Regions from separate parts of the Homo sapiens genome. Here all the other regions are linked to region 1. Evidence: fine-mapped expression QTL. A gene starts in region 1. Each other region holds a variant in brackets. All regions are shown on one strand. Distances are between the middles of the regions.

What was found. PIP is the estimated chance that this variant, and not a neighbour inherited with it, causes the effect. A credible set is the group of variants that fine-mapping cannot tell apart.
Region 2: its variant is the best candidate, but not a certain one, in a credible set for the expression of EFR3A in transverse colon (GTEx, PIP 0.51).
Region 3: its variant is the best candidate, but not a certain one, in a credible set for the expression of EFR3A in whole blood (TOPMed, PIP 0.71).
Region 4: its variant is the best candidate, but not a certain one, in a credible set for the expression of EFR3A in monocytes (TOPMed, PIP 0.85).

What each region holds. Positions count from the first base shown.
Region 1 is chr8:131,901,011-131,906,282 of GRCh38, reverse strand. EFR3A (EFR3 homolog A) reads right to left here and starts at 2,190. Exons shown (of 23, transcript NM_015137.6): 1 at 1,961-2,190. The coding sequence starts at 1,970. RefSeq lists an enhancer at 1,194-1,243 and a silencer at 1,814-2,293.
Region 2 is chr8:131,973,852-131,978,851 of GRCh38, reverse strand. EFR3A (EFR3 homolog A) reads right to left here. Exons shown (of 23, transcript NM_015137.6): 11 at 2,711-2,825; 12 at 1,760-1,811; 13 at 1-5. Among named protein-coding and RNA genes, the nearest start is that of EFR3A, 72 kb to the right of the region's middle. The variant T/A (reference allele first, on the strand shown) is at 2,383.
Region 3 is chr8:131,927,638-131,932,637 of GRCh38, reverse strand. The region is part of intron 1 of EFR3A (EFR3 homolog A); the gene reads right to left. Among named protein-coding and RNA genes, the nearest start is that of EFR3A, 26 kb to the right of the region's middle. The variant A/T (reference allele first, on the strand shown) is at 2,786.
Region 4 is chr8:131,984,593-131,989,592 of GRCh38, reverse strand. It overlaps EFR3A (EFR3 homolog A), which reads right to left. Exons shown (of 23, transcript NM_015137.6): 16 at 4,533-4,664; 17 at 3,332-3,399; 18 at 1,891-2,018. Among named protein-coding and RNA genes, the nearest start is that of OC90, 72 kb to the left of the region's middle. The variant T/C (reference allele first, on the strand shown) is at 2,492.

The DNA.
Region 1 (5,272 bases):
ACAGAGAATAACAATTTTGCCATCTCTGTGTTGGATATATATTCTACAAACAGAATTTCAAAGAAATATTGTTGTCCACTGCACTATCCCAGCAATTTCGGCAGCTGTGACTGCCAAAGGAGAGAAAAGGCAAATATGAACACTATTCACCTCACACTGGTACCCCCAATCAATCCACAGCACATTTTTATTCAGTCATAAAAAATGTACCATGACAAATATTAACAATGACAGATAAAACAAACATTTCACTTGTCTTCCAGTCAGGGTGTGAAATCTGCATTCTTAACTATGTAAACTCCACCATGGCCCATCCTAAAATCATTTTGCAGAATGAACTCAACATTTGAAAAGAAACGAGTTTACTATATCCACTCTGTGAAGCTAGATAACCCTAGAACATAACTAAAAATTTTATTTCACAGGATAATTCTGGCATGTTACCAATAAATTCTACTTGAAGCCTCAACTTTCAATAGGTGCTTACCTCCTCCCCTTTGGTTTCTCAGAAAATAAAAGATTAGCATAGTGCTAGTCTCAGATATTCACTGAATAACGTGAACATGAATTTAGAAGTACTAAACTGGCAATAACAATGAAGATGATTGTAAATGATATTCCTCCAGCCAAAAGGAATAAAACAGAAATTTAAACTGGACATATTTACTGGATGCGAAGTCCAAGAACGTGAGTTAAGGACACACAGTAGTGTGTGAAGAAAACAAAATCCACAGTACCCACACATGTATGAGGAGTTAAAAGTAATCTCTACATCAGGACTATGTAAAGATTTGCCACAGGAAAATCTTTAAATCTCAAAAAGATATTTAAATATCTTTAATATCAATTTAAATTTAATATCCTTAAATATCAGGAAAATATCAATCTTTATAATATCAAGAAATAACTCATCTTTTCCCACCACTAGACGAAACGTGCATTGGAGACTGACCTGGAAATTCAGCGTCCCAGATGGCTACAAAACAAGGACAACTAGAAGTAGTTATGAATTCTAGGAAATATATTCACAAGTGTGTAAAGATTCTATAGTATTGAACACTTAGTCAAAGGAGTCCTACTTGAATTCTCAAATCAATGACAAAGTTGCTTCCTCTCTACCCAAGATCAGGAGCTTCCCTAGTTTGCACATATCCACATTGACCAGTGGCTATAAAGTCACACTGCGATTATCTGGGTCATTTTAAAATAGGTCATTAGCAGTACTTGTAGTATCGCGTCTGTCTAAAAATCCTCCAACACCGAGTGACTTTTAAACTTTGGGGTGCCTTGGTAACCCCAGGGACGCTTATTAGACATGCAGACTCCGGGGCCCAAGCTCCAGACTAATTCCATGGGAATAGGGCGGGTCCCGAAACCGGCATTTTTAATCATCTGCCCGGGTGAATCCGAAGTGTGGTCCAAAAGCCACAGTCGAGGTGCCTCTGCCTAACAAGCTCCACAGAAAGCTCCGACTTCAGCCGCCCCGACGGCGATACGGACGCCGAGTTAGGCTGTCGGGGGTCTGTCTGGCGGCCGCGGGAAGGGACTCGGGGCCGGCGCGTCCACTAGCGACGTCCGGCCCGAGGTGAGAAGGGACTGACAATGGTACCGCAGTTATTTTCAATATTTCCATAAAGTCCCACGAAGCCGTGTGGCCGTGGGAAAAGGGCTTTAACTTTGAAATCCCACGGGTCAGGTTACCACCAGCTCTGCCGCCTCCTAACAGCGCGTCCCCGCAGTTCCCTTAACGTTCGGGCCTCAGTTTCCCGATCCGTGCAACGGGCTCACGCCATCTCCGGAAGGCTAAGCCGAAACGAAACTAACTCCGCCGCTCGCAGACACTTCCTGGCTCTGCTCAGCGCGGCCCAGCCTCCCCAGCCGCCCGGGAGGAGTACCCGGCCCAAGCGCGTCGCGCAGGCAGTCGCCTCCCAACGCCCCCGGCCCTCGGCCGGCCACTCACGGGTAGGCATGGCGATCTCGACCGCGCTCGCCGCCGCACCGAGGCTCAGCGGGGCCGCGCAGGGAGCGCCGACGGCACCATGACGGCCGTTGCTGGGCCGCGGAGGCCGGAACGAGGCGAAGGGCGAAGGGCGAAGGGTGGAGGGAGCGGACGCGGACCCCGCGGTCACGCAACCAAGCGGGCGACAGCTACCGCCGCCAGCCCACTCCTCGCCGGGCGGCGCGACGGACGACCCACGCCCGTTACGTCAGCGCGCCGCCGCCGTCCCGGCCCCGCCCCCGCGGATGGCCGGGCTCGGCCCAGGATCCCTTGTCGAGCGGGTGGAATGGGTGGCTGGGGACAGCCACGTAGAACAACTTCGGGTGCCTTCTATTTTCCAAGCCTGGTGACCTGCGTGGCATTCGTTTTCCTTGATCTCTATTTGGAGTGCATCACTTTACGTTTGTGAGGATGATGGCTTTGAGCGCACGGAGTACCTGTGGGCTTTTTCTTTTGCAATCGGTTTAACTTGCAGTGCGTTTTGCATACTCTGAAAGCATGGTTTATTTGAGATGCACTAAGGTCATTTGGGGTGATGGCTGCTCATTTTTTGAGAGGGCAGAAAATGTAATTTCCTTTTGCTCTTGTGACTTTCAGAGCGACCTTATCCCTCAGGAGTTAGTCTCCTCTGGAGAGGGCAGCTCTGTGCACTTGGCTGAGCTACTCTTCTTGACTCTGGGTGTCATTAATAATTGAGGTATCTAATAGTCACCAAGCTGAGCAGACACCGGGAGCCAGAGAGCTGAGCAACGCACCTACACTATGCTAGGCGCCGTGGGCTGCGGACAGCCCATATGGAGATATAAAAGCCAACCGCAGAGGTTTAACACAGCCTTCCTCAAAGTGGGTCAAAGTGGTCCAGGATCCTTTTGTGCTTGGATCCCCTGGGGACTTGTTGAAAAGCAGATTCCTAGGTGCTGAGCCAAATCTACGAACACATATACAGATGATTTAAATACAATGATAATACTGAGAACCTTTGTCCTAAAAAGTAGGGCTAACCTTCTGATTAAGAAATGATATTGTGCAGTACTGGGAGGAGAAGATGAAGAACATGAAGATCAGAGCTAGGAAGCGCTGAGGAGAAATTAGTCTTGGCTTGAGGTGGACTTGGAAGAAAGCAGAATTTGAATTAGCAAAGCCTAGGGGAGTCCTAAAAGAGGCTGGGGAGAGGATGAAGGGTAATTTAGAGTGAGTCATGGCAGCTGGGGAGAGGAGAGTGTGTACTGTACCTATAAAAGAGACTGTCCAGCTGGGAACGGTGGCTCACGCCTGTAATCCTAACACTTTGGGAGACCGAGGTGGGCGGTGGGCAGATCACCTGAGGTCAGGAGTTCGAGATCAGCCTGGCCAACATGGCGAAACCCTGTCTGTACTGAAAATGCAAAAATTAGGCGGGGGTGGTGGCACATGCCTATATTCTCACTCAGCTACTTGGGAAGCTGAGGAAGGAGAATCGCTTGAACCCAGGAGACGGAGTTTGCAGTGAGCCGAGATCGGGCCACTGGACTCTAGCCTGGGCTACAGAGCAAGACTCCATCTCAAAAAAAAAAAAAAAAAAAGAGAGACTGTCCCTTGCTAACAGTAAAGACCAAACTACCTAGTGCTTATTCATGTTTTAATGCCCTGTTGCATATTTTATCACCTATAAAATCTTTCATGCTTCCAGTTTTCTCCCTAAGACTTTGGCATTATCTTGATTCCTCTCTGCTACAGCACTTTTCTCACTGCATCCTAAATAAACTGTCATGAGTGCTTGTGTTTTACCATGGGCCTATTTGCTTTTCAGAAAATGGCAAAAGCCATATTCTGTTCATGTTTATGTATCCTTGGCTGGCACACAGGTGGGGGCCAGAGTATATTAATTCAATATATAAATAAAGGATTTTATTCAAGAGTATGAAAACAAAAACAGGTAAATAAAACTGATAAACAACTTTACATTCAACCTTGGAATTTGTCTTTTAAGAAACTGTTCTGTGATTTTTACAAAAAGCATAACAGTAACATTAAATTATCAGAAGCAGGGCCTTGCAGGGGGAATGGTGTGGCAGAGAAACTGTGGAGGTAGGCAGCCAAATCGGAAGGCCCCAATACAGGAGAGAGTGTTAGGTGCTCAGTCTTGGTGGTGGCTGTGGAAAAAGAAAGAACTGAATCTTACTTTGGAAAAGAATCCCTGGATTTGTTGGCTGCTGACTTGGGAGCAATAGAGAGGCATCTGTTAGTTATGTAACTCCAAGGTTGGAACAAGGAAAGTGGTGGTGCTGGAGAGCAGTAGACCAGTCAGGAAGAAATGCTGTTTTAGGGAAGGGGTGTGAAGAAAGGTGTGAGTTTCTCCTTGACATATTGAGCTTGAGGTGGTATCAGAGGGAGACATCCGAGTGAATGAATCTGAAGGCAGCTGGGCAAGCCAGGATGAAGGTGGGCTGAGGGACCTCAGGGTGGGAGATTTGGAAATCTTTGGTCCCGGGACAGGAGCTGAAGCTGGGTGTCAAAGAGAGCCCTTTTAGGGAAGATGTGGAGGCAGTGAAGGCACAGAGAGACGAGATCCACAGGATACAGTGCCCCAGGAGCCAAGGGAAGACATGACTCCAAAAGGCAGACATCTCTGCTTACATTACCTTGAAAAAGATGCAGATCCCAAAGGCCCTGAAATTGTCCTGCACATACTGGTTGTTTTTTTGTTTGTTTGTTTTTCATTTCTTTCTGTTTTTAATCCTCTTGGTCTTTTGGTTTTGTATTGTTGCCAGAAATAAAAATCAGCAGCCAAAGATTCTGAGGAAGGACAGCTGAATGTCAGGAAAAATAGTGTCATAATGTTTTGATTATATATACAGTACCTACGTGGTTTTTTTTTTTTCCCTAGTTTGTGCACATTGGTAGCAATGTTACCATACTCTTTCCCTAACCTATCCTCTGGATCCGAGTTCTGCCGGTGTATCCACCACAGCCAGCCCCCGCTTCCTTTTTGATTTTTTTTTTTTTTTTTGAGACAGAGTTTCACTCTGTCGCCTAGGCTGGAGTGCAGTGGTGCAATCTCACCTCACTGCAGCCTCCACCTCCTGGGTTCAAACAATTCTCCTAACTCAGCCTCCCAAGTAACTGGAACTACAGGTGCATGCCACCACGCCTGGCTAATTTTTGTAATTTTAGTAGAGACGGGGTTTTGTCATGTTGGCCAGGCTGGTCTCAAACTCCCAGCCTCAAGTGATCTGCCTGTCTCGGCCTCTCAAAGTGCTGGGATGACAGGTGTGAGCCACCACGCCCGGCCCC
Region 2 (5,000 bases), 73 kb before region 1:
GTCACCTGATTATCGAGAAGAAAACAAACAACCTTTTGTCATGAGTCCTTTTTTTGTAAAATTCTCATATTCTTTTATAAGAACCATAAACTTAGGAAAGAAAATATGGACAGAAGCCTGGAGAAAAGACATAAAAGAAATGTGCAAAGTAATGAAGGATTTTGCTGAATTTACAAAAACATCATTCATAAGAAAAATAAAGTTAATAATAGCACACATTTACCATGTGTTAGGCATGATTCTAAGCACTGCATATGTATTAACTTTGTCCTCACCATATCCCTGTAAGGTAGACACTAGTGAATCGCCATTCATAAGGAGAAACTGAGGCACAGAGAGGTTAAGGTTAGTACAAAACAGATATAAGGAGCTTAGGTGACAAAGAGTAAAAGTAAGACCTGCAAATTTTAAATTTAAGTTTGCAAATTATTCTTTCATTTTAAATTAGGCAGTTGGTTAATAGGAATACATTTTCATTTTGGAAAGCTGTACTTAGTTACTTGATTTGACATTTAAGAGTACGTCAATATCTTCTAAACATAAAACTTTTAAAGAGAATATACTTAAATGCTATTAAACATTTTAAGCATAACATATATTCAGTTGACTATATGGTATAATCAGAAAGGCAAGGCAAAATAATTTACTTAGGGAATTTGTTTAATATAAATAAAGGCTTAGGATCAAATTAAATTGCAGGTGGGAGATCTCAACATATTTTCAGGATTATAAACATGTATGGAATACTTAACATTTACATTTGGGCATTTATTATAGGATGGAGATAGTTTTATAAGTCAGCTGGGAAACTGGTGGGACAACTGTCTACCCATCTGGGAAAATCCATGCCTCATACCACATATAAACATAAACTTCAGATTAAAGTTCTAAATGTAGAGAGCTAAAATTTTAAAACTGCTATAAGAAAATACAAACAAATGTGTTTATATCATCAGAGGAGGAATGGAGTTCTTATATAAGATACAAATGAAAAAGTGCAAAACATATAGAAAAAACTGATAAATCTGGCTATATTAGAATTCAAAACTTCTAAATGACAAGCGCCATAAACAGAATTAAAAAAAATTAAAAATACAACCACACAAGGTATTTCTGCACTTGAGAGAGTCTGTTTAAAAAATTAGATCATGTATAGTAAACATTTCTAGGATAAATCTGAAAGATACTGATTTTGAGAGGACGCATATGTGCTAGCAATGGCTGAATCAAATATGAGTACAATTGCTAGACAATAACCAGAGGACCTTTCATTCTGGGTATACTTTTCCTTTTCAGCTACTTATAGCCACTTCAAATTTTAAATGGCAAATATTCATTTTAATGAATTATTTTCCCAATCAGAAGCAATTATTTGGTCAGTATGAGAAAGAATTAGCATAATATGTTGAAAGAACTTTGGATTTCAAGTCTGAGTTCTGTTTTTTAGCCCAGTGACTTTGGTGGACCTTATCAACTCCTTCCACTCACAGTCTCTGGGCCCAGGTATCTTCGTCTATAAGACAGCAATAGTTTCTGCCCTCTGTATGTTTCATCATTATGAAGATCAAAGACAGTGACAGAAGAAGTGAGAAATAAACGGTAAAAAAATTGGATAATCTTTAAAATGAAGAACATAATAAAATACTAACCATAAACAGTAACTTACTTAAGAAAGAACGGTTGTAACATGAAGCTATTCAATTAATGTTTTCAGTAATTTAAGGTTAAGTGTGTCCTTTATTTGTCTTAAATGCCTTACCATAAGCAAAGATCTCAGCAACATTATCTGAATTCTCCTGGTTCCCAAATCCCTAAAATATACAAAAGGCTGAATTATTATACTAATTAGCATTTATATTACTTCATTTACTTCAATTACTGATTTTAAAATTCTATTCTTATTGGCTAAATAGATTTTATTTTTGTAACAGTTTAAGTCATGGCTCACTTCACATGCCAAAGTAAAATTTCACGTGAATTAAAACTATTATATTTAAAAATATCAAACAAAAAATTTGTTATTGGCTCTCAAACAGTCCTATGCATCTGATGACAAGAAAATTAAATCATATAAACAGACAACTAAACAACCCAAATTAAGGTACCTTAAATTGGAGAAAATAATTACTACATAGTTGATGAATATAATCTTTCTTTAACAAATATGAATAAACAGGTAAGAACAATTTTAAAAAATAACAAATTATGGTCAAAGAAATGTAAGTCGAATAAGATACTATTACTTCCTTATTAAATTAACAAAACAACATTCACAAACAAAAACTTCAGCATATTATAAAATCCAATTAAATGTATAAAATAAGGGGGTCACATAATCTTTAAAATTACTTTCAGTTCTAAAATTCTAGGAATAAGCCAATA[T/A]TTCTGATATATTGACATTAATGTTTAAAATTTATACAGGAAACTTGAAGCTTTACCCTAAATGTGTATGCACACACACAATGTCCAGGCCAAACAATTTCTAAAGATGGAAATATCTGAGAATTTATAAGCTGAAAATGATTCTAAAGGCCTAAAAATGCTAATTCAATTGCTTAGCAATCTACTGTCATAATAATACTAACTGCTTTCCATAGGAATGCTATTACTAATGATTTTTAAAAAAAAACAAAACGTTAACATTTTCTAGATTTCGTTAGGATAAAATGTAACTCAAGATTAAGTTCAAATTTACAGTCTGAGAACATACCCTAGTTGACTGATATCCAAAGTATGGGTAGATGTTCCAAAGACAGGTACTTTCCCCATAATGAACATCATGATTTCTGACCTCTGATAATCTGGTAGGTTACTTCCAAAAAATCCTATGAAAGTATTAAGACAAATTTTAGAAACTGAAAAAGTCTACTTTTCCATATAATACAAAATTATTTTTAGCCAAAGTTTTCAATATGTGGTAAAACAATCCCTCACAAGTCTGTAAGCTACATGTAACATTAAAGGATATTACAATTTCATTTGTACAAAATCATTTAGTTATGTACAATATAAACTGTGTATAATGGACTGGTAGATAAAATGATAAATATATCAAAGTCTTTTTTTATATAATTATAACAGTGACAAACCGGGACTGACTTGAGTTGACTGGAGTTTTAGAAAAAGGAAAAATATTGGCCGGGTGTAGTGGCTCATGCCCATAATCCCAACACTTTGGGAGGCCGAGGTGTGCGGATCACCTGAGGTTGGGAGTTCGAGACCAGCCGGACCAACATGGTGAAACCTCGTCTCTACTAAAAATACAAAATTAGCTGGGCGTGGTGGCACATGCCTGTAATCCCAGCTACTCAGGAGGTTGAGGCAGGAGAATTGCTTGAACCTGGGAGGTGGAGGTCGCGGTGAGCCAAGATCGTGCCACTGCACTCCAGCCTGGGCAACAAGAGCAAAACTCTGTCTCCAAAAAAAAAAAAAAAAAAAATAGGAAAAAAAAAAGAAGGAAAAATATTTTGGTAGTATTTCTGATGAAATTCTAGTTCACACATCGTAAGCCTAAATTTTTGTTCCGGTAATCAGGCCACACATTGTCTGGTAAAGAAGTTAATAATTAGTCACTACTCTGGTTTTCCAGGATTTCTCAAATATTTGAATGTCATTGTAATAAGCCAAGTTTATAGTTTACCCCTGTGAATTAATTCAACATACATAATTCAACTGATGTAAAAAATAAGTAAATAACTTACTTGTCATTTTTCTTATGCAGTCTAGTTTCTGAGAATATTTTAAATTTATCTGCTGTAGCTTTTGATACTTACTTCCTGGTCACAAAAGATTTATAACCTTTAATTATCAATTACTCACACTTTAAAAGTTTCTTATTTCTTTGAAAGATTGGAACAGACTATCAAATCATGGCTGTTATGTTCCTTTCTTAAAATTCAATGTAGTCATTACAGAAACTTTCTGCATTTTTAGTATTTTTTAAGAATAAGCTGACTTTTCAATGTAACTGTTGAGCTTCTATTACTGGAGTTAATGATGTGTTTATATAAACTCAAACTGTTCTATTCATCATTTTGATTGGACTTAGGGGTAAAAGTCATTTCCCACAATCACGTACATTAGCAGTCAAAAATCTCATAACCTTAACATGACTCCATCTCCATAAAGTATATTGTTGTTAACACTTACGGAATACATATTTATGGAATAAGAAACTATTTTGTATTTGGATCCGCAAAATAACCTTTTGAGTCTAGGTTCTATTATTTGTCTCAGTTTCCTCTTATGGAAATGAGGATAAGAGAAGTCAAGAACTCTTACCAAAAAATTACACAGCTAACATTAGGGCCTGAGGTAAGGGTTATTTATTTCCAAAGCTTATGCTATTATTATTCTATACTTCTTCCATACAACTAGATACATTCCTAGTCTTGCAGAAAACTGGACACTGACCTTCTGTTTCAAACAACTTAGTTATTACCACAAGGACATAAAGTACCCTGCACTTCTCTTTACCACAGCACCTAACTACAGTAAAAGTTTGGAGTTAGCAAGCACTATCATACTTCCCTGTATTCAACAACATTTGTATCTCTGATTCAAGGTCATTCTTCATGCTTTTCAAATGCGTGGAATAGTTTCCTCTAATCCAGTGGTTCCCAAGCTTTGCTGCATATTATAATTACCTAGGGGAGCTTTTAACATGCTGATGCATAGGTTACATACCAAAGTAATTAAGTCAGAATATCTGGGGGTGGGAGTCCAAGCATCAGTACTTTTCTAAGATCCTGAGGTAATTTCAACGTTCAACAAAGTTAAGAACCACTGTCCTAAGGAAAAACTCTTATTTTTGTCTCCCAAGTATATGGTCAACTGAGTCCACTATCTCTGATGTTAATTAGACAAACGACTATTAAAGACCTAAAAATAATAATAGTAGGAAAGAAATGCAACTAATATATGCTTTAGAATTGCTTTGATTTTTTTTTAACTTAAAATTGGGTAGGAGTCTTCAACATGATTAACTCTAAGGATAAAGT
Region 3 (5,000 bases), 26 kb before region 1:
TTAGAGAAAATCTTGGTAAATACACAAAGTAACAAAGCTAGCTAACATGTATAGGAGTATTTTACCTTAAAAACTGAGATCTGTGTTTCTGGTAACAGCTTCCTTTAATGCCAAGAGGACAAAAGAAACTGAACTTACAGCTTCCCCTTTATTAGCCTATTTATAAGCTAAATATTTCCTGTAAAGGACTTCTAACAACCTGAATAAATATTCATGGAACACCAAGGAACATTGTTAAATGTCTTTTTGAAAACTGCTTTTGTTATATCAATGCTTGAACATAAGCTAATGGCCCAGGAACTGTCTGTCACTCATTTCTAAACCATTTTAAAAGAACAAATTATTTTGAGACAACTAAAATCTTCTGTAGTTTAAAAATACTATTAAGGTAAATTAAAAATTCCACATACAAAACAGAAAAATTCTCATAAAAAATAAAGACACCTCAAATTAGGGGGTCTCAAAAATGCTCACAATTAGAAATCAAAATACAGAAAGAACCAATAACATTAGTACAACAAAAAATGGGATTGTGGCAAGAATATGTGAAGGCAAGAACTCAACTTGCAAATCACTTATTTACATGGTTTCAAGCTTCAAAGGAATTTATATAATTTGGCATTTTGAGAGTGGCTGGGGGGTGCTATCATTAATTATGCCAGGACCAGTGGCATAAACTTTGACCATCCTAGGCAAACCAGGAGCCAGGATAATCCTACTTATTCTCCTGCGTATTGGAACATGTCTAAAGGTATCAAATAGTCAAATTTTCAGCTACAACTGCAAAATGAAGAAAAGCAGCAAGAATCCAGTCAGGGCAGAAAAAGATGAAGACAAAAAGAAACATAGAAGACCAGTAAAACAAATGAAAAACCCTAAGATGTTAGCTGGTTTTTTTTCATATATAATAACTATAATACTTACCATGTATCAAATAATGCAACAATTTTTATAGAAAGCTCATTTACTCAACATTTGTAATGAAAATGTTTTATAAAATGTCTACTACATATAAGGCATTGTGAAATTTGCAAATATTCATACAACTGGTTCCTGATATTAAGCAGTCTAATATATATTGAGATTGTAAGAAATCAACATTACAGAAAACAAAATATATAGTTCTTTTACTAAAAACAAAGCTAGATGCAAACAAAATAGTAACAATAGAAAATGACTGGATTTACCCTCAGTCTTGGGGTATAACTATATATACCTAATTATACTGATTTATCTATCAAACGTTTAACATTAACACATCTCTAAGAAACAATTACCACAACTTCTAACTCCCTAACAAAATCAACATTCATAAAAATCTTCTCTTACTGTTTGTATTTATTCTTTAATTGTACAAGGTTGCCTTGGAATAAATACAATCAAAGCGAACTATGTTTCCATAGTACAATGCTTCTCTAAGGGTGGCCTATGAGCCCTCTGAAGAAGAATCTCCTAGATTACTTTTAAAAGTGAATACTCCCTGCCCCCAACCCAGGACTTTCTGAATCAATCCCTGGGATGGCATACCAGAATTCTTCTTTCTAAAAATAAGCCTCCCCCTCCCACCATGGCCCTCATGCACACCCACGTTCATTCGGGAGCCATTGCTCTAGAGAACCACTCCCCTTGTATAATGATGTAGAGAATTTAGCATATGACTTTTTCTTATTGTGTACTTCAGGTATTCGGGAAACTGTCCTTACCTAAGTTATGCAATAGATAAGTTATAATATAGGCTGCACCTCGTAAGATCATCTTATATATTACAATAACTGAATCATAAATAGCACTATAAAGAACCAGGAGACCAAATGAGTGAGAAAAATAATGAATGCTATGACATTCAGAAAAGACTTCACAGGAGATGCTGATGTGATAAAGACCTATCACTGGCAACAGGGAGCTGGTATTTGTGGCTAAGACCACTAGAATTTCCCCATTATTTTCAAATGCTGCCACCAGACCTCATTAGGGAGTAGATTTTCTAAGTAACTTGTATAAATGAATACTTAGCAGACTCATGTCAGAAATAAATCATGACTAAATGGTCTTTAAAATCCTAAGCCAAGTATTTCAAGTATAGTAAAGGAAAAGTGAAATTATCATGATCAAATTTTCCACGTTTTTCTAAAACATGACCAGACCTTTGAAATTTCTCTTAAGATTGTGCTGATATGTTTCTCTGTATTTCATTCCACCGTGTTCTTAAAATTATCAGTCCTTGGGAATTATTTTACATGCAATGGCTAGAGAACAGGTTATACCTTTGGATAAACTATTCTATTCATCTGTTCCTATCTTCCCTAGAGAAGACTTCTGCTATAAGAGGAAAAGTGACTTATTTTACTCGTCAGTCTGGAAAAAAGGAACCTAGTAGGCTCTAAAACATAAGCACCAAATCTATATCTGCACCATCTGCACAATGTCCATCCAGCACATGGTAAGAGCTCAATATCTATTTGTTAAATGAATGAATAAACAAACTCTTAAGAGTTTCTCCTTCAGATGTGCAGTCTGCAATTCATTCTTCCTGCTTATAAGCATACCTGGGTCTGGAAGTGTGTATCTTTACATGATCTCCATGGAGTTATAGGGCAGTTTGAATCAATGTGCCTTCCTTGCAAAAGGCTTGGTCAATGTGTTTGCTCTGCTAACTTGGGGTGTCCCTCAGATACATCATTGGAAAGTTTAGATTTGGAGGAAAAGTAACAGAAAGACTGATAATGGACAAAGATCAAGATGCATTCTCCAACCCAGCTTTACTAGTAGTAAAACTGGTATTTTG[A/T]CTTGCTTCAAACTGACTCTTATATTTCTGTATTTCAGTTGGTTCTCAACTCAGAGAGGGACACAGGTGAAACTGCTACCCTCTGAAAACCAAAAAACAAATGTGCCTCAGAAATATACATAAATGGGAAAAACAATACCCAATCTCATGTATTCTTTTAACAATCATTTAGTGAAGCCTACCATGCCCTAGGCACTAAACTAAATGTAGGGAATACAAATACAGGCCACAATCCCTGGCCATTTAGTAGCTCGTAGTCTGGTGGGAAAAGATAATCACATACAGAAAGAATTATCTCTGTGATAACAACTATCACAGGTTGCTATGAGATAATAGCTAATGGGATAACAAACCTTTCTGCAAGAAGTAATGACTAAATTAAGTCTTGAAGAAAAAGTAGAAATTAGGCAAAGAGGAGAGGATTATTATTCCCAGGCAAAGGGAGCCACATCTATTAAGGCTCTTAAGAGGTTTAAACAATGTGGTTTTAATTTGAAAGTAAGCATAAAGTTCTGCAACATGAGAAAAATGCCTAGGCAAACTTGCAGGAAGCTGACTTGGAAACAACTGAGTATAGAAGGTAAAGAGGAAGAGACAGGAAAGTTTGGACAACTGGTTGGATGCTAGTGTCACTGACCAACAAGGAACACAAGAGGATACACTCTGGGGTAAAAGGAGGATATCAAGAAGAGAGAATGAATTCTGTTTTGCACATATTAAATTTGAGGTAAACTTGAAGGTGGGATATCCTGTAGCAGACAATTGATCTAAACTAGAAACAAATTTAAAAACCAAAAGCATTTAAGTGATAGCAAAAGCAAATCTGCTGAGATCACTGAAGGCAAATAGGAGACTTAGAGAATCCTGAGGTAAGAAAACATTTAAGGGATGATCAGCACAATAAGAGCAGAAAGAGAAGACCTCTGAATAAACAGAAAGAAAATTACAAAAGGATTGTGTTAGAAAATGCAAAGAATAATTTTTCAAATACTGTACTTTTTACAAAGGTACCAATTATAGAGATAAGATACATGGACTTTAAAAAAACGCTCCAGTAATGAGGAAACATCAGAAAAAGAAATTAAGAATATTTTAAATGCAAGTAAAAAGGAAAACATGATTTTACAATAATGTAATTTAAAATTTCAAGATGGACTAAATATTGTGACCAAAATAAATCACAACAGTGGCAGTTTCAGAATATCCAGACTGAAAATCATTGTTCTATAGACCACATCTGACATGGAAAAAGGAGAAACTGATAACATAGTTTACAACAAGATTATAACTTATTATTTAGGTAATAAGAAATTTCCTTTATGAGGATTTACTAATTTATTGCTACTTTAATCAGCTTTTGGCAAGATAAAAGTCTGCTATCTAAAATACAGAATTTAAGATTACATTTTATAATTTCTAGTAAATGCTGTAGGATAAAATAATTGATCAGAATAACAACAAAAGGAAAATCTGATGATAAATGTCTGAAGAAAAAAATTGTATAATGTCTGCAGAAACCCCACCCTTCATTTAGCATTTAATGTCGAACGTATAAGAAAAGCAGAGATTTCTTCTAACAGGATCAAGAATTGGGCAACTATCTTATTCTTATAATACACACAGTAACAGAAGTTCCACATTTGAAGCATTCTTCCAGGAGAGACATTCAAAGAACATTTTAAGTATTTCATGACTAGTCAACCAATCAATTAGGTTTATAAGGTACTTAACTACACGCAAAGTGCCAGGAATGCAACATGTATGTCTTCAAGAAGTTCCCAAACTAGAAAGACTAAAATTCAAAAAATTATAGTTGTCAGATTTTATTTTCCATTGTCAGAAGACAATTTTAAGATTATAGCTGCAGAATTACTATCAATGCTTGCAAAATCATGATGAACAGGAAGTTCTAAAAGGATGGGAATTTGCAAGGCTTTCACAGTTCATCACATCTATATCTGTTCTTTAACTTGTTTCCGGGTAGTTTCATAAGGGAAGGGCTCTTCTCATTCATCTTTTTATACTCTCACTTTTTAACTTTTTGGTTTTTTTTCTAAAATAATAAACGATAATTCAATTTCCAGTAAGTGAAGAGACAAAAGAAGTTGTAAATTGTAAATGAATAAACTCAATGCCAAAAAATTAACAGATAGCTGGTAACTGATTGGCACACACGTTATGGTTCCTAAAAAAAGCTCTTGCTAAAAACCATTTC
Region 4 (5,000 bases), 83 kb before region 1:
TAGTGAAATCAAATAATTTATTAAGCAACTAACTGGAGAGGCTGTTAGTGGTGTCACCTAATCATTTAATTCAATTTTAGCCTCACTATACTCATTTGTAAACAAAGATAATGCTATCTTCCTCACCAAACCATTATGAGAATTACATAAGAAAATGAATACTAAGCACTTATCACAGTGCCTAGCACACAGTGCATAATAAATGGTAGCTACTATTGTGATGATGATGGGTACTACATGACACACAACAAACTAAATATGTTCTGCTTTTTATTTTAATACATTGTTCTTAAATCCCTTGAATTTTTTAAATGAATATCTGATGGTTACACAGCAAAAGGAAATTTAATTACAGATTCAGTATCCCATAAAATATCACTGTTTATTCTGTTTCTGCATTAAGGTAGGATACTAATGCCACAGATAGGTTCTAAACTATCAGTCTTCACAAATCAGAAAAATCTAGTAGGATTTCTAGTAGTGCAGTTATACAATTAAGTAGACACTAAAATATTCAGAATTCTTCTAGTCATTGGTAGAGATGCATTATGAGAGAATACATCTTTTTTAGGGATGGGAGGAATCAGGGAAGTGCAGACCATTTGTTAAAAATTTTGAAAGTACCAGAGCTTTCATTAAAAATTGTTAAGAGTTAAAGGAACAGGGTAAAAAGAAATAACAGGGGTAAAAATAAACTAGGGCTATAAGGAAGATAAAGGAAAATAATAATTAAACTAATTATAGAAAATATGCAGGCCACTGGCCCCATTTTCTAAAAGGCACATTTTATTAAGCTATTTTCCTAGAGGACAGGTAAGGGAAAAGGCAGGCCAAACTGACAACTGGATTTACCTTTGTGCTTGTGCCTGGGTTTAAGAGGTTTTTTGCTTGAAGGAAAGAGAGCTAAATTCAAATTATAAGAGTAAAATATTTTAAATGTTTTTTTAATATTTTAAATTATAAAGCTCTAATAATCTTTTGTTCTTAGCACTTTTATTTCCTCAAGGAGTTCCTGAGGAACACAATCTTTTAAAGCATAAAATTTAAAAGAAAATGCAAAAGCACTCATTAACATCTCAGACTGTTATGAACAACTATTACTGTACTAAATGTATATATTTTGGATCCATGTTATTAAAAAAAAGCCATTTACAAAGACTGCACTACTTGTAGTGACTAATCCAGAAATCTTTCTAAGTGAAATCAAATGGTTCTCTTGTAGAACAGAGGTATCCCCAAAGAACTAATTCACTTACAAAATTTAATATTTATATAGTCACCAAATTAAAATGAAAGCATAAGACATAAATTCTTTGATTTTAATTTTTACAGTAAAAGTTGAATACAAGACACTATGCAATTTTGCCTTCAAACAGAATTATTTCAAGCAATGGGAAAATATATAGTTCACAGAGAAAATATATAGTTCACAGAGAAAAAAAAATTCCTAACTCAAAAAGTTTGTAGTTTTATTTATATAACAAGTCTGTACTCTTTCAAATAACGAAAGTTGCCTAATTCATTAACCTAAATAATCACTTATCATTAAACAATTTTCATCAATTTCCATAACTTAAATAGAATATCATTTAATGAGAAAAGATCTCACTTTAAAATATACTATTAAATAAAATATTAAGTATTGTAACAATAAATATTCAAGGACTTGATTTGCTCCTGGTAAAATCATATCTATGTCGTTAGAGATTTACTGAAGGTTTTCAATAGCAAAATTAAAAAACAGAAGTAAATACTCTTAAGCATTTGAAAATGGCTGGGCTATAGTAAGGACACACACCAGAATTAATTTTCATTGTTAACTGGGTAATGAAAAATTTACTATAACATAAGCAATCACCAGAGTGAAAGTTCTAATTATCCTCCTCTTACCTGTTACTTGTGGTACATACGGAACTGACAATCTCTCAACACTATATCCACTTCCACCTAGCGACTCTGCAATCTTGTTGGTCAGAAAGTACAAATCTTTTTCATGCTTCTCTAAAGATTTTGGAAGCCTGCGAAGTTCATCAAAACAACAATCATTCAGTATTAAATTACTGAGCAAAAATAAGTTACTATGCAAAACATTCCAGAGCAAAAGCCTCAATATTCTAAATATAAACACAATGTAAACTGTAGTAGCAGAAAAATCAGTATATTTTAGGCAACTAATTTGAGCTCTTTAAAAACACACAGTATGTGGTCCCATATATTAACCATTCTGCAGTGATTCTTCTCTCAGTAACATTCCAATAGTGAATTCAGCCTTGTATTACTCTGTTGATCTTTACTTGTTAAGTAATAAAGAACACTAAATGTAGCTTTTATTGTCATGTTAATTAAAAAGTGTACTGAGAGACAAAATAAAAAAAAAATCATTAGCCCACTGATTGTTAATGAAAACCACATTAGCCAGCTAAGTGTAAGGAAGTACTTGCCCACCCACATAAGGTTTCACTTTCCTTGCAAACTGCTTGATATTATCTTA[T/C]GCTGATGCTTTCAAAATAAACTGCTTTTATAGCCCAAAAGTTCAAACAAAATATTATTCATATATATACTTTTCTTTAGAGAACAAGAAATAATGCAGGAAATAACACGGATTTTCCTTAATACATTCTTTCTTCCACAATATTTTGAGTATTGTTACCTATTACTGAACGTCTTCAACAGGATACTGTACTCTCTTAAAGGTTTGATCATTTACATATGAGAACATAAAATATGCTATATTTAAGAGACATATCCAACAGTTTTTAAAAAGTGGGGTAAGTTTTCTTATTCTTTTTTTTTTTTTTTTTTTGAGATGGAGTCTCGCTCTGCTCTTTTACCCAGGCTGGAGTGCAGTGGTGTGATCTTGGCTCACTGCAACCTCCACCTCCTGGGATCAAGCGATTCTCCAGCCTCAGCCTCCTGAGTAGCTGGGACTACAGGCACATGCCACCATACCCAGCTAATTTTAGTATTTTTTAGTAGAGACGGGGTTTCACCATGTTGGCCAAGCTGGTCTAAAACTCCTGACCTCAGGTGATTCACCCGCCTCAGCGTCCCGAAGTGTTAGGATTACAGGCGTGAACCACTGCGCCTGGCCAAGTCTTATTCTTAAAAAATTTTTTCAAGATTGACTCCATGTTGTGCATAAGTCAACATCCATAATGTGCAGGCCCTTTTATAACAAGGGAAATAATTAAATGAATTAAATGACAGACACAAAATGATGATTAGTATAAAGCACCAGGAATTATTGTAACAATATTTACTCCTTTATAATTATTACTGATGGGTTTATCAAGTCAGTACCCCATCCTTAAAATGTAAAGAATTAACATACATGCACTTATCTCTGAAGATATGCTCTGGTAGAAAATAAGGGGCTTCCATAGTTCGAATTTCAATAACCTAAAAAATATTCAAAAACAGAACAAAAATCAAAAACCCTACCCCTCAGTACCTTGCTATAAAAATTCAGAAAACAGCTTAAAAAAAAACAACTTTAAACATTTATAAGAAATAACATCACTTTGTTTTTGAATTTAAGCTAAGTTTACAGCCCAAATGTAAAGTTTGTTTTGTTTTCACATCTATTATTTTTAAAATTTAACAGATAAAACTGTGACAATAAAATAATATATAAAGCAAAAAATGATGACACATTACATTTGATTAAGCCTATTATAATAAAGCAAGAATATCTATTTTCTCAAATGCACTATTTTGGAAATCGCTTTACAAATCACCATCCTCCACCTGCTGCATTACCTTTTGCAGCCTGTGTACAAGGTCTCCAGGCACTTGTGTGGACTGGCTCCTCCAATGAACTGTGAGCAAAGAGGTACTCTGCTTTTGTAGTATTTACTTCTCTAGTGGTGGGCATCAAATATTCACTCAAATGTCTGATTAATGAATGGATGAGTTTTGTTTCTTAGAGTACACTACAAGTCTACATTTTAGCAAGGACTAAATGATGTGCTTCCAATTTAAGAAAAATAAAGTTCTCTCTTACAGATGTCTTTAAAAGTGGACTTTTTCTGCTAGGTAACTTGGGGGCATTGAAATGTTTATTAAGTCATGCAAATAACCATGTAAGAGTTACTGCTAAAGACAACTAAATATATTTGAAAGACACAAGACAATTCTCTGAGATGCACAGTAATTATTCAACTTTTGAGATCTGCCTCAAGTAGTTTAGAATAAACAACAAAAGAGTATAATTTAAGAAAATTTACATACTAAGAGTCATAAGGGTTCAAAGGAAAAAAGTCATAGAATAAATCACATAAGGTATTCTAGAAGAAAACCACATATTCCATTCAACCACTACATTAAACTATTATAATAAAACAACATGCATCTAAGAAAATATAAAAACAGTAGCTACAGTTTTAGCTGTAGTTTCAGTTTACTGGCTGTAGATTTTTATAGAATTACCTTAATTTGATACGTAATCACCAAAGTTAAAAATAATCATCACTGGAATAAAATTAGCAATTTTGTACAAAATTCAAGTTTAAGGACTTTTCTAAATACATTACCTTGCTAACATGCTGGCAAAATGCAGGGACAGCTATCATCTGACTTACAAAGTTGAGGTATGCTGCAACCAGTGCCATGATTCCACAACGATGGAACATTGGCAAATTATCCTCATTGATAATTGCACTGTCCTTTAATAAGAAACAAACACATCAGAGAGATCAAGTTCTTATACTTCACCAGCATTTTCTCTGATTACACTGGAAAACTGCAGGTAGTTTGGAAAGCTAACAAAAATGCCACTTTATCAGAAGTTATTTTCTAAAACAATTCTGAAAGGAAAACAAATGTTCTTTTACAAGAGAGTTAATTTTTCCAACTTAAACTCTCTTCCCTAGGAAAGCCTTTCCTGTTCTCATATATATATACACACACACACGGACATGCATATATGGCCATTGCATACTGTCCTTCTATTACATAACACTTACGCAACTCTAATTAAACAACTGCATGTATGTCATTCT